Homo sapiens: one gene and its partners. The protein of the gene in region 2 purifies or fractionates together with the protein of the main gene of each other region. This does not show direct contact. Each region holds a gene or a part of one and is shown on either strand. Other genes may lie near its edges.

Region 1 (3,654 bases), on a different chromosome or scaffold from region 2:
CTGAATTAAGGAAAATGGGAAAACTATGACAGAGATCAGATCAGTGGCTGCCAGAAGTCAGGGGTTACAGCAAAAACTTGACTACAAAAGGACAAGAGGAAATTGTTCAGGGGTGATGAAAATATTCTATGTCGTAACTATGATGGCAGTTACAGGACTGGATGTATTTGTCAAAACTTACTGCATTATACACTTAAAATTGATAAATATATTGTATATAAATAGTACCTCAATAAAACTGGTTTTTAAAATGGAACGAAAAGAAAAATGTAAGTTTGAGAGCAGGTATATTAGTCTGTTCTCACATTGCTATAAAGAAATACCTCTAGCATGGCCAATATAGGGAAACCCCATCTGTACTAAAAATATAGAAATTACCAGGTGTAGTCACATGCTTGTAGTCCCAGCTACTCACGAGGCTGAGGCACAAGAATCACTTGAACCTAGGAGGCGGAGGTGGCAGTAAGCTGAGATTGTGCCACTGTACTCCAGCCTGGGTGACAGAGCGAGACTCTGTCAAAAAAAAAAAAAAAAAAAAAAAACCGAGACTGGGTAATTTATAAATAAAAGAGGTTTAATTGGTTCATGGTTCTGCAGGCTATACAGGAAGCATAGCAGCTTCTGCTTCTGGGGAGGCCTCAGGAAACTTACAATCACGGCAGAAGGCAAACAGGGAGCCGGCACTTCACATGGCCAGAGAAGAAGGAAGAGAGCGGGGAGGTGTTACACACTTTTAAACAACTAGGTCTCATGATAACTCACTCACTATCATGAGAATGGCACAGAGAGGATGGTGCTAAACCATTAATAAAGGATCCACTCCCATGATCCAATCACCTCCCACCAGGCCCCACCTCCAACCCTGGGGATTACAACTGGACATGAGATTTAGGTGGAGACACAGATCCAAACCATATCAGCAGGTGTCTGTCACCCCACTTCCTCCGACAATGCAGTTAAACAGAAGTGCCACCATGCATCAGCACTAGTTACTAGGAAGGGCAACCACATGCCAGATAGTGGAAACTTCAAGGACTTTCTGCTAATTGTTGATTAGACTCGATTAGAAGAGAAATAACAGGAGGCTGAGGCAGGAGAATCATTTGAACCCAGGAGGTGGAGGTTGCAGTAAGCCAAGATCGTGCCGTTGCACTGCAGCCTGGGCAACAGGGCGAGACTTCATCTCAAAAAAAAAAGAGAGAGAGAAATAAACTAGGACCAAGGAAGTAGCTTGGTCTCCAAGAAATAAGTAGAGATCCTGGATACACACAAAACCTGCTAACTTGCAGAGGCCAGGACAGGCCCTGAATAAGCATGGGACCCTCCATTTGGAGTTCTCAGCTGCTCTGGAATGGTGGTATCTGAGGGCACCCCTTAGACCTAGAATTTTCACCAAGCTTAAGGCCTCAGGTAAAGACAGTGGATTTTCTTCTTCTTTTTTTTTTTTTTTTTTTTTTTGAGACAGAGTCTTGCTCTGTTGCCCAGGCTCGAATGCAGTGGTGCAATCTCAGCTCACTGCAACCTCCAACTCCTGGGTTCAGGCAATTCTCTCTGCCTCAGTCTCCCGAGTAGCTAGGATTACAGGTGCCTGCCACCACGCCTGGCTAATTTTTTTGTATTTTTAGTAGAGACAGGGTTTCACCATCTTGCCCCAGCTGGTCTTGAACTCCTGACCTCGTGATCCACCCACCTTGGCCTCCCAAAGTGCTGGGATTACAGGCATGAGGACCGCGCCTGGCCGAGGGTGGATTTTCTTAAACCTCCTGGGCAGGCCACATGCCCTGGAAATAAGACAGGCTGAGAACTGAAGGAGCCTTTCCTGAAGAATGGGTCAATAAGTAGCCAACTCCAGACAGCTGGTTCTGCAGAAGCAGCGGGGCAGCAGCAGCAGCAAGAAGGACCAAGCAGAAAGAGGAGGCCCCTGATCACACAGGAGGGCAGCACAGCCACCCCAAAAGGGCTCCAGTGAGGGCCAACAGGACTAGCTGAATTCCAGATAAGCCCAGGGCACTGACCACACGCACTCGGCTTCGTTCCCCAAACCCTATGAAAACAACAGTGAAGACTATGAAAGGCATAAATTGCTTTTATGGGAGAATGGGAAGGGAGCAAGCAGCAGATGAGATTTCAACAACTTTTGGAAAGGCAGGAAGTGAAATAGTCACAAAGGAGGGGCCAGAGGGGAAGCAAGCTATATGTCCCATTGGCATGCGCAGGCATGAGGGACCACGGGAGGCTGGGGTAAGGCATGGAGCTAGAAGCAGGGCTGCAAGTTTGAACAGGCTGTTGGGGTCCTGGGTCCGCTCCCAGCACCTACCCACCCACCCAAGAGATCATATCTCCCAAAGCCACTCTTCACCAGAGAGTGGCAGTTTATTCTAGAGACTTTACCCATAAAGGCTGAGGAGTCAGGGACCAGACGTAGCAGAGGCCAAGTGGAGGCATGAGGCTAAAATCAGGAAGCAGGTGAAGTATTCCTACTCACCTGGGTGACCCTGTCCCTCTCCCCACACTGGTTCTCAGACACCAGCAGAGGAGTATGCGCACCCCACCAGCCCTGCAGAAGGCTGGTGAAGTCTTCCCTGGAAAACTGACAGATACCCCCAAAAAGAGACTTCCACACATACATTTTCCCTAGCAGTCAAAAAGTGAGCCTGAGATCTGATCACTCTACAGAAAACCCTGTGGTCAGGCCTTGGGAACTATAACTTCTAGTGGATATTTTCCACATATCCCCATTTTCTTTCATTTTTTTTGAGACAGAGTCTCGCTCTGTCGCCCAGGCTGGAGTGCAGTGGCGCAATCTCAGCTCATTGCAACCTCTGTCTCCCGGGATGAAGTGATTCTCCTGCCTCAGCCTCTCGAGTAGCTGGGTTTACAGACATGCTGAGTCACCACGCCCAGCTAATTTTTGTATTTTTAGTAGAGACGGGGTTTCACCATATTGGCCAGGCTGGTCTCAAACTCCTGACCTCAGGTGATCCATCCGCCTCGGCCTCCCAAAGTGCTGGGATTACAGGCATGAGCCACTGTGCCCAGCCAAATTCCCATTTTCAACAATGCCCTGCCCTTGCTTGAAACCCAGGCCCCCAGTGCCTGAGTTCCAGAAGACCTTGACAATAGTGAGTGCTCAAAAGGGCGAGATCGTTCTTTCTTATTGTTGTTCTTACGACTAATTCTCATCAAAACTCTTCTTCGTAGATGCGCAGATTTAAGTGTCCTCTACTCTGTCACATCAGCCTTCCTAACTCGTCTTCATTTTCTACCTTAATATATTTAGGGTGCGTTTGTGTGCAAGTGTGTATAAAAATATATGCCTTCTCATTTCATCAAAACTGGAGATTTATGTTTCTATTTCTTGTGTTCCTGGTCATTTTAGATGATTTCCAAGATATGTCTTTAATCTACCCTCTTAAAACTAAATAATTAAATGACCATATTTCTAAAATGTAGCATTTAAAGGGAACATGGCTTTTAAAATCATCACGGCATACAAAATATCATTATTAAATGGATCACTTTGTGCTAAAAGTCAATCATTTCTATTGTCATAATATTCAGCAAATGTCACCAAAAATCACTAGAGGTCCTTAGCTATCAGCAGCTGCTTATGGAGAGACATTTCTTTAACAGTCCAGGTTGCCACTAACTGCC
Region 2 (3,654 bases):
TTGTACAGCAGATCCCTCACATAACTGAAATTTTATACCCATTGATTACCAACTCCCCCTTCTCCCTAGCCCTGGGCAATCACCAGTCTACTCTCTGTTTCTGTGGTGACTATTTTAGATGCCTCATGTAAGTGGAATGATACAGTATTTGTCTTTCTGTGGCTGGCTTATTTTACTTAGTATAATGTCTTCAAGGTTCATCTGTGTTGCAAATAGCAGGAATTCCTTCTTTTTAAAGGCTGAATAATGTTCCTCTTTATGTATACACCACATTAAATCCACTATGCATGGATTTTTTAAAAATGTGGTGTATACATAGAGTGGATATGGTTGTTTCCATCTTGGCTATTGTGGATAATGCTGCAAGAAATATGGGAGTACTAATATATTTTCAAGATTCTTATTTTAATTCTTTTGGATAAATACCCAGTAGTGAGATTGATGGATCATATGGTAGTTTTATTTTTAATTTTTTGAGAAACCTCCATATTGCTCTCCACAGTGACTGCACCATTTTACATCCCCCCCACAAACAGTGCACAAGAGTTTCAGTTTCTCCACATCTTCACCAACTCTTATTGCTTTATACTTTGATAACTGCCATCCCAACAGGTGTAAGATAATATCTCATTGTGGTTTTGATTTACATTTCTCTGAAAATTAGTGATTTGGGGCATCTTTTCCTATGCTGTTGTCCATTTGTATATCTTCTTTGAAGAAATATCTATCAAAGTCTTTAGCCCATTTTAAAAATGGCTTGTGTTTTGCTATTGAATTTTATGACTTCCTTATATATTTTGGAAATTAACCCCTGATCAGATGTACAGTTTGCAAATATTTCCTCCCATCCCATAGGCTGCCTTTTCACTCTATTGATTTTTTTTTTTTTTTTTTGGCTGTACAAAAGCTTTTATGGTTTTGTAATCCCACATGTCCATTTTTGCTTTTGTGGCCTGTGATTTTCATATCCATGAAATCATTACCAAGACTAATGTGATGAAGCTTTCCCCTATGTTTTCTTCTGAAAGTTTTACAGTTTCAGTTCTTATGTTCAAGTTTTTAATCCATTTTGAATTGATTTTTTGTGTATGATGTAAGATTGGGGCCCAATTTTATTCTTTTGTATGGGGATATCCAGTTTTGCTAACACTATTTGTTGAAGAGACTATCCTTTCCACTTTGCGTATTCTTGGCACTCTTGTCAAACATCAGTTGACCGTATCATGTGTGGATTTATTTGTGAACTCTCTATTCTGTTCCATTAATCTATGTGTCTTTATACCAGTACCATACTGTTTTAATTACTGTAGTTTTATAATATAGTTTGAAATCAGGCAGTATGATGCCTCTAGCTTTCCCTTCTTTTTCAAGATTTTGGCTATTTGGGGTCTTTTGTGGTTCCATATGAATTTTAGGGCTTTTTATTTCTGTGAAAAATGCTGTTGGGATTTTGATAGGGATTGCATTGTATCTGCCAATCACTTTGGATAGTATGGACATTATAAAAATATTAAATCTTCCAATCTATGAACACAGGATGTCTTTCCATTTGTTTATGTCTTCTTTAATTTCTTCCAGGCCTTGTTCTTGATCTTAGAGGAAAAGCTTTCAGTTTTTCATCATTGAGTATGATGTAGCTATGTTCTCCACACTGGCTTTTTTTTCTTTTTCTTCTTTTTTGAGTCTGCTTGCTAGAGAATACACTGGCTTTTACAGGTCCTCAATTCTGTCATTAAAACAGAACAAAATCACCCTCTTTCTCCCTGACTTTCACAGCAAACCTCTGGAAAGACTTATTTATACGTGCAGCCTCCATTTCTCATCTTCCATTTTCTCCTCCACCAATTACATCTGGCTTTTGCCCTCCACGTCACTGACCTCTTGCTTAAACCACCTATGATCTCTTTTCCTAAGGCCAATGGACCTTTTTAGGTCCTCATCTTAATTCACTCCTCAGCAGCACCTATGCTTTCTCTTTTCGTCTTCAGGAAATGCTCTGCCCTTGGCTTTCATGACATTTCTCCCTCTTGGTTTTTCTCTGATCTCTCTGGTTCATCCTTCTCTGTCTCCTTTTCAGGACCACCCTCTTCTACTTGAGGTTTAATTCCAAGCCTTCTCTTCGAAGCCCACCCTCTCTCCCTAGGCACTCTCATCCATGCCATGGTTTCAATTACCCCTAGATGTTGATGACTAACAGAGGCATAGCTCCTACCTGGACCTCTCCTCTGAACTCCTGCCTGTATATCCACCTGTTCTCTTGACCCATCCACTCAGATGGTTCAAAGTCTCCTGGCTGAGACTCACTCACAATGTTTGCCCCAAAGCCTGGTTCTTTACCACTGTTTCCTGTCTTAGGAAATGGCATCACCAACCACTGGTACAAAGCTGGAAGTCTGGAACTCATCCTCCACACCCTTCTCTCCCAACTCTCACATCCAAACCATCACTTCCTCTCCATTTTACCATCTCGAATTTCTCACATCTATGTCTCTCCACCACCACTACAAACTTTCCAGTCTAAACAACTGTCACTTTTTGCCTGGACTACATCAGGAGTCTGCTAACAGGTTTCCCTGGATCTTCTCATGACCACCTCAAATAAACTGTTCAATTATACAGCCAAAGTGACCTTTTTGAAATAGAAAATCTGTCATCCTACTGCTCAAGTACTTCAGTGACTACCCCTTGCTTTAGAATCAACCTCAAAATCCTTAATGTGGCTGATAAGATGAGGTATGTTTAACCCTTTCCTACCTCTTCCGCTCATGTTGTATGATTTCCCCTCTCATTCTCTGAACCCTAATTCTACTGGCCTCAAAATGCCATATTCTTTCTAGCCATGGTCTCTGCCCATTCCAGGAATATCCTCTCCCATCTCCCAAAGTCACCTCACCTCCTTAGCTCCTACTCATTCTTCAGGTTTTAGCTCAATCATCACTTCCTCAGGATGACTTCCAGCTCCTTCCTGAATGGCCCCAGGCCTTCTGATAAACACTCTTAGAATACCATGCACCTCCACTTTATAGCTTTTATCACAGTGTTACTTTATATTTGTTTTGTGACAAATTTGTTTCCCCTGAATGACTTCAAGCTTCATGAGGGTAGGGTTTTGACTGTCTCCTCCTATCCCCCTGCCTCCAACATTGTATCTCCAGTGACATTCAGTAAACACTTGCTGACATCTTGACAATGCAATCCTCACTTTTCAGCCCCAGCCCCCTCTAGCTTCTGGCCTCACTACTCTACTGATATTGTCCTTGATAAGTCATCAACAACCTTCTGATTGCCAAAACTGCGCTTCTGTGGAGCCCTGGTGTTCTACCAGCTGGATTGAGGGTTTCCTGCATTAAAACAGAATCCTGGTAGTCTTTCCCCAATTCACAGACAATAAATAAGCTGATAGAATATTCTCAATGTAAAGCTTCTGTTCATAAAGTTTTCTTAACACTTGGCACCTGTGCTCTTCGATTTAACTCAAAATTGTATTTTCAGTTATTTTTATTTTTATTTTTTTGACAGAGTTTCACTCTGTTGCCCAGGCTGGAGCGCAGTGGCATGATCTCGGCTCACTGCAACCTCTACCTCCCAGGTTCAAGCGATTCTCCTGCCTCAGCCTCCCAAGTAGCTGGGATTACAGGCACATGCCACCATGCC
Region 3 (3,654 bases), on a different chromosome or scaffold from region 2:
GTCTCTTTAAACTAGATCCTTTTTAAAGTTTAATATTCTTAGTGTATAAAGTAAGAAAGATTAATTAATAACCCATTTATGCCTAGTGGTCCATTATTGGAATGCTAAGCTTGTGGGAGTTATTCATATCCTACTGCTCAAGGTCATCGCTAAGGTCTGATTTTTTACAAAAAAAATTTGCAACCTCCGGCATAAATGGGTTAATATTTAATTCTTTTTTTTTTTTGGAGATGGAATCTCACCCTGTCACCCAGGCTGGAGTGCAGCAGTGCAATCTCAGCTCACTGCAACCTCCGCCTTCCAGGTTCAAGCGATTCTCCTGCCTCAGCCTCCCAGGTAGCTGGGATTGAAGGCATGTGCTGCCACACCCAGCTAATTTTTGTATTTTTAGTAGAGATGGGGTTTTATCATGTTGGCTAGGCTGGTCTTGAACTCCTGGCCTCAAGAAATCCACCCACCTCACCCTCCCAAAGTGCTGGGATTATAGGCGTGAGCCACCGCACCTGGCCTGAATTATTAATTTAAGAATAAGTCATGTTTGAATTTGATAGCCTGGTTATATATCTTTTACTAAATATGCCCTGACAATTCAAAGGAAAGGTTTTGTGATAGAATATTAAACATATTTCAGTTTATTAATTTATTTTAGGTCATTCTTTATATTTCTCCCTACTATTTGTATGTGTGTATCCCTCCCTTCTCTCTCACTTGAGAAGAAACTATGACAAAACCCAAAATAAGAGACAGCCATAGTAATTGTCTGAATATTAACTGCTGTATTTCATTACCATGTCTTATTATCTTTTCTGCTCCTTGGGCTTCCTAGTTTGTTAATGTTATTTCTGGTACAATTGTTGAAATATGTGATGTAAGCTTTTGACTTTGGCTTTTCTGGAATTTTGGTGGTTTCTTTTTTTTTTTTTGACTAAAAGTTGAAGCCAGGTGTGATAGTGTGTGTGCCTCTAGTCCCTGTTATTCAGGAGGCTGAAGTGGAAAGATCACTTGAGCCTGAGAGGTCAAGGCTGCAGTGAGCCCTGATTGTGCCACTGTACTCCAGCCTGGGTGACAGAGTGATACCCTATCTCTAAAAAATAAATAAATAATAAACAAATGAACAAACTTAAATATAGAAGGATTCAGTCCCTGAAAACTATAACGATAGTTAAGTATACTCAGATTTCTTTCCTTTTGCCCTCCCTTTCCAGCAATGACTCAGATGCATATAAAGATCAAATATCAGTACTGCCAAATGAACAAGACTTGGTGAGAGAAGAAGCCCAGAAAATGAGTAGTCTTTTACCAACTATGTGGCTTGGAGCTCAAAATGGCTGGTAGGTGTCAATGCTTTTAACATTAGAATATGTTGTTTTACTTTTGCTTTTGAAATCAGAAGATAAGTAAAATATGGTAAACAAATACAAAAAGTGTGGATTAATGCAAAGAATTTTATATATACACACAATTTGATGTTATGTTGCAACTACCACATAAACTGGACTTGCACTGGTTCTGAATAGTAAGCCATATGTTTCTTTGTCACAGAATGTTCCCTTTCTATAATATTCTTGGAAGAAGAGGTATGTAAAATTTTAAAATCGAGGTGCTCCAGAAATAGAAGATCCTGAACAGCACAAAGACAGAGAATATTTAATTTATGTAGGCTAGAATGTGGGCAGGAAAACAGGGATTAAACCAACATTTTGGCTGCAGGAAGGCCCAATCCCAACTTTTAGTGAATTTTTTACTAAGATAGGTAAAACAAATCACAATCTGCAAAGTCAGATGATGATGACTAATATTATATGGTTTGTTCACTTTCCGGTTGTGTGGAGAGTTTTACAAAATTGTGCATTTACAAAGGTTAAGCAAGATTACTGTTGAGCATCTCTAATCCAAAATTTAAAACTCTTTGACCACTGTTATGATGCTGGCAGGTAATGCTCATTGGAGCATTTTGGATTTTTGAATTAGGAATACTCAACTGTTATGTATGATGTAAACATTCTAAAATCTGAAAAAGTCAGAAATCCCAAGCATTTCAAATAAGGGTTACTCAACCTGTAGTATGTCTTTTTCATATGAGTCCAATACTATAAAGTGAAGAGTTGGCAAACTTAGTGTAACTCTCTTCCAGTAGAGCATTATGGGCATTGTAGTTTGAATTTCATATAAATCTCCCCTGTCGTAAAATACCCTTGATTTCCCCCCCACACACACTTTTAAAAATGTAAAAAGTATTCTTAGCTTGCAGGCTGGATTAAAACAGGTGGCAGACTGGATCTGGCCTGTAGGCCATAGTTTGCCACTCCCTATGTGGGCCACTCTGTCATCCAAAAGTTATAGATCAGTGTAGTAGAGAGGTAAGGCAATTCAAAAAAAGAGTTTTGCCCAAGGACTAAGTGTGTGAACCTGACTGTGCATTGCACTAGTTCTTGCTTTTCAGTCTTCATATGTTTTTCTTTGCTCAGCAGCCTATTTCTTTACCTTAGGCCTACCCTCACTCTCATTTTTCTTTTCTGACCATTGCACAAAAGCAGCAGCACCTTTTCCTAAAATTTGTATGTTACTCTTCTTTCCTTCTGAATGAACTTCGCGATCATTGTTAGATATATGCAATGTCTTGATGTTCTCTATGCCTTACCAGTGTTGACTTTGTTCTTACAGTTTGTATGTCCATTCATCTGTAGCCCAGTGGAGGAAATGTCTCCATTCCATTAAACTTAAAGATTCGATTCTCAGTATTGTGTAAGTTTTATTTTGGAAATTCTTCTTGTTAAAACTATGCATTTTGGTATAAACTAGATTTTAAGACTTTGAAAGCTAATACATGTTTCACGACTAAATTAGTATCCAATTTGTTTGTTTTTTTAACCCTTTTTATGGAACTAGAGAAGTTAAGTGAGAATGAAACTGTATAATAGAAAACGAAGTAGAAAGGATAACTTGCTTGATTGAGTCCTCACCATACTGCGATTTATTTAGCACTGCAGGAAATAACCAATACCTATTAAGTTATGTTTATTTTAGAATATTCTTTATGGCTTGTAAATATGTTGATTGGGGCATTGATTACTAGTTCTTTTCTATGTGTTCACTGTAAAAAAATCAGACAGTTTATCTCTGAGCCTACAGGGCTGACTCTGTTGGTTCCACTCAAGGTGCATGTCTCTGGTCTTTAGAGTTTGTGTTGATTGTCTGTGATGAGAGGAGAACCTTGGGCCAGAAAGTGAAATAACTGAGATACCATTCATACTGTTTATTTAGTTCAGCTGACATTTTTTCATAGCAGGACATCCACAGTGAAGAAAGTGGTGTGTTCATTTATATTCAGGTGTCAGCTCCTTAACTCATCACAGATTGGCCCTTTGTGAGGCCTTGAACTAGTTCAGTAGCATGTGGTCCCTTCTGTATTCCTGAATGGAGAGTTCTGAACTCCCCTTTCCTGTTTGCAGACACGTGAAGGGAATCGTGTTAGTAGCCCTGGCTGACGGCACCCTTGCAATCTTTCACAGAGGAGTGGGTGAGTGGTGATGTGTGTATAACATGGACACTAATTTGTTGCTTTGCAAAGCATTTTTAAGTAGATTGGTTTATGTTTTAAAGAAATGATACTCAGTTTAAAGAATAAATACTAACAATACACAACATCAGTAA

The links.
Region 1: the proteins of FAM163A (region 2) and CRTAP purify together in Homo sapiens (affinity purification with mass spectrometry; one large-scale study listed by BioGRID and IntAct). This does not show direct contact.
Region 3: the proteins of FAM163A (region 2) and SPAG9 purify together in Homo sapiens (affinity purification with mass spectrometry; one large-scale study listed by BioGRID and IntAct). This does not show direct contact.

Annotation. Positions count from the first base shown.
Region 1 is NC_000003.12:33,120,514-33,124,167, reverse strand, and holds part of CRTAP (cartilage-associated protein isoform 1 precursor), read right to left. Parts: intron 1-3,654. UniProt on the Homo sapiens protein: Necessary for efficient 3-hydroxylation of fibrillar collagen prolyl residues.
Region 2 is NC_000001.11:179,749,717-179,753,370, reverse strand, and holds part of FAM163A (protein FAM163A), read right to left. Parts: intron 1-3,654.
Region 3 is NC_000017.11:50,984,789-50,988,442, reverse strand, and holds part of SPAG9 (C-Jun-amino-terminal kinase-interacting protein 4), read left to right. Parts: intron 1-1,205; coding exon 1,206-1,331; intron 1,332-2,664; coding exon 2,665-2,745; intron 2,746-3,452; coding exon 3,453-3,520; intron 3,521-3,654. UniProt on the Homo sapiens protein: The JNK-interacting protein (JIP) group of scaffold proteins selectively mediates JNK signaling by aggregating specific components of the MAPK cascade to form a functional JNK signaling module.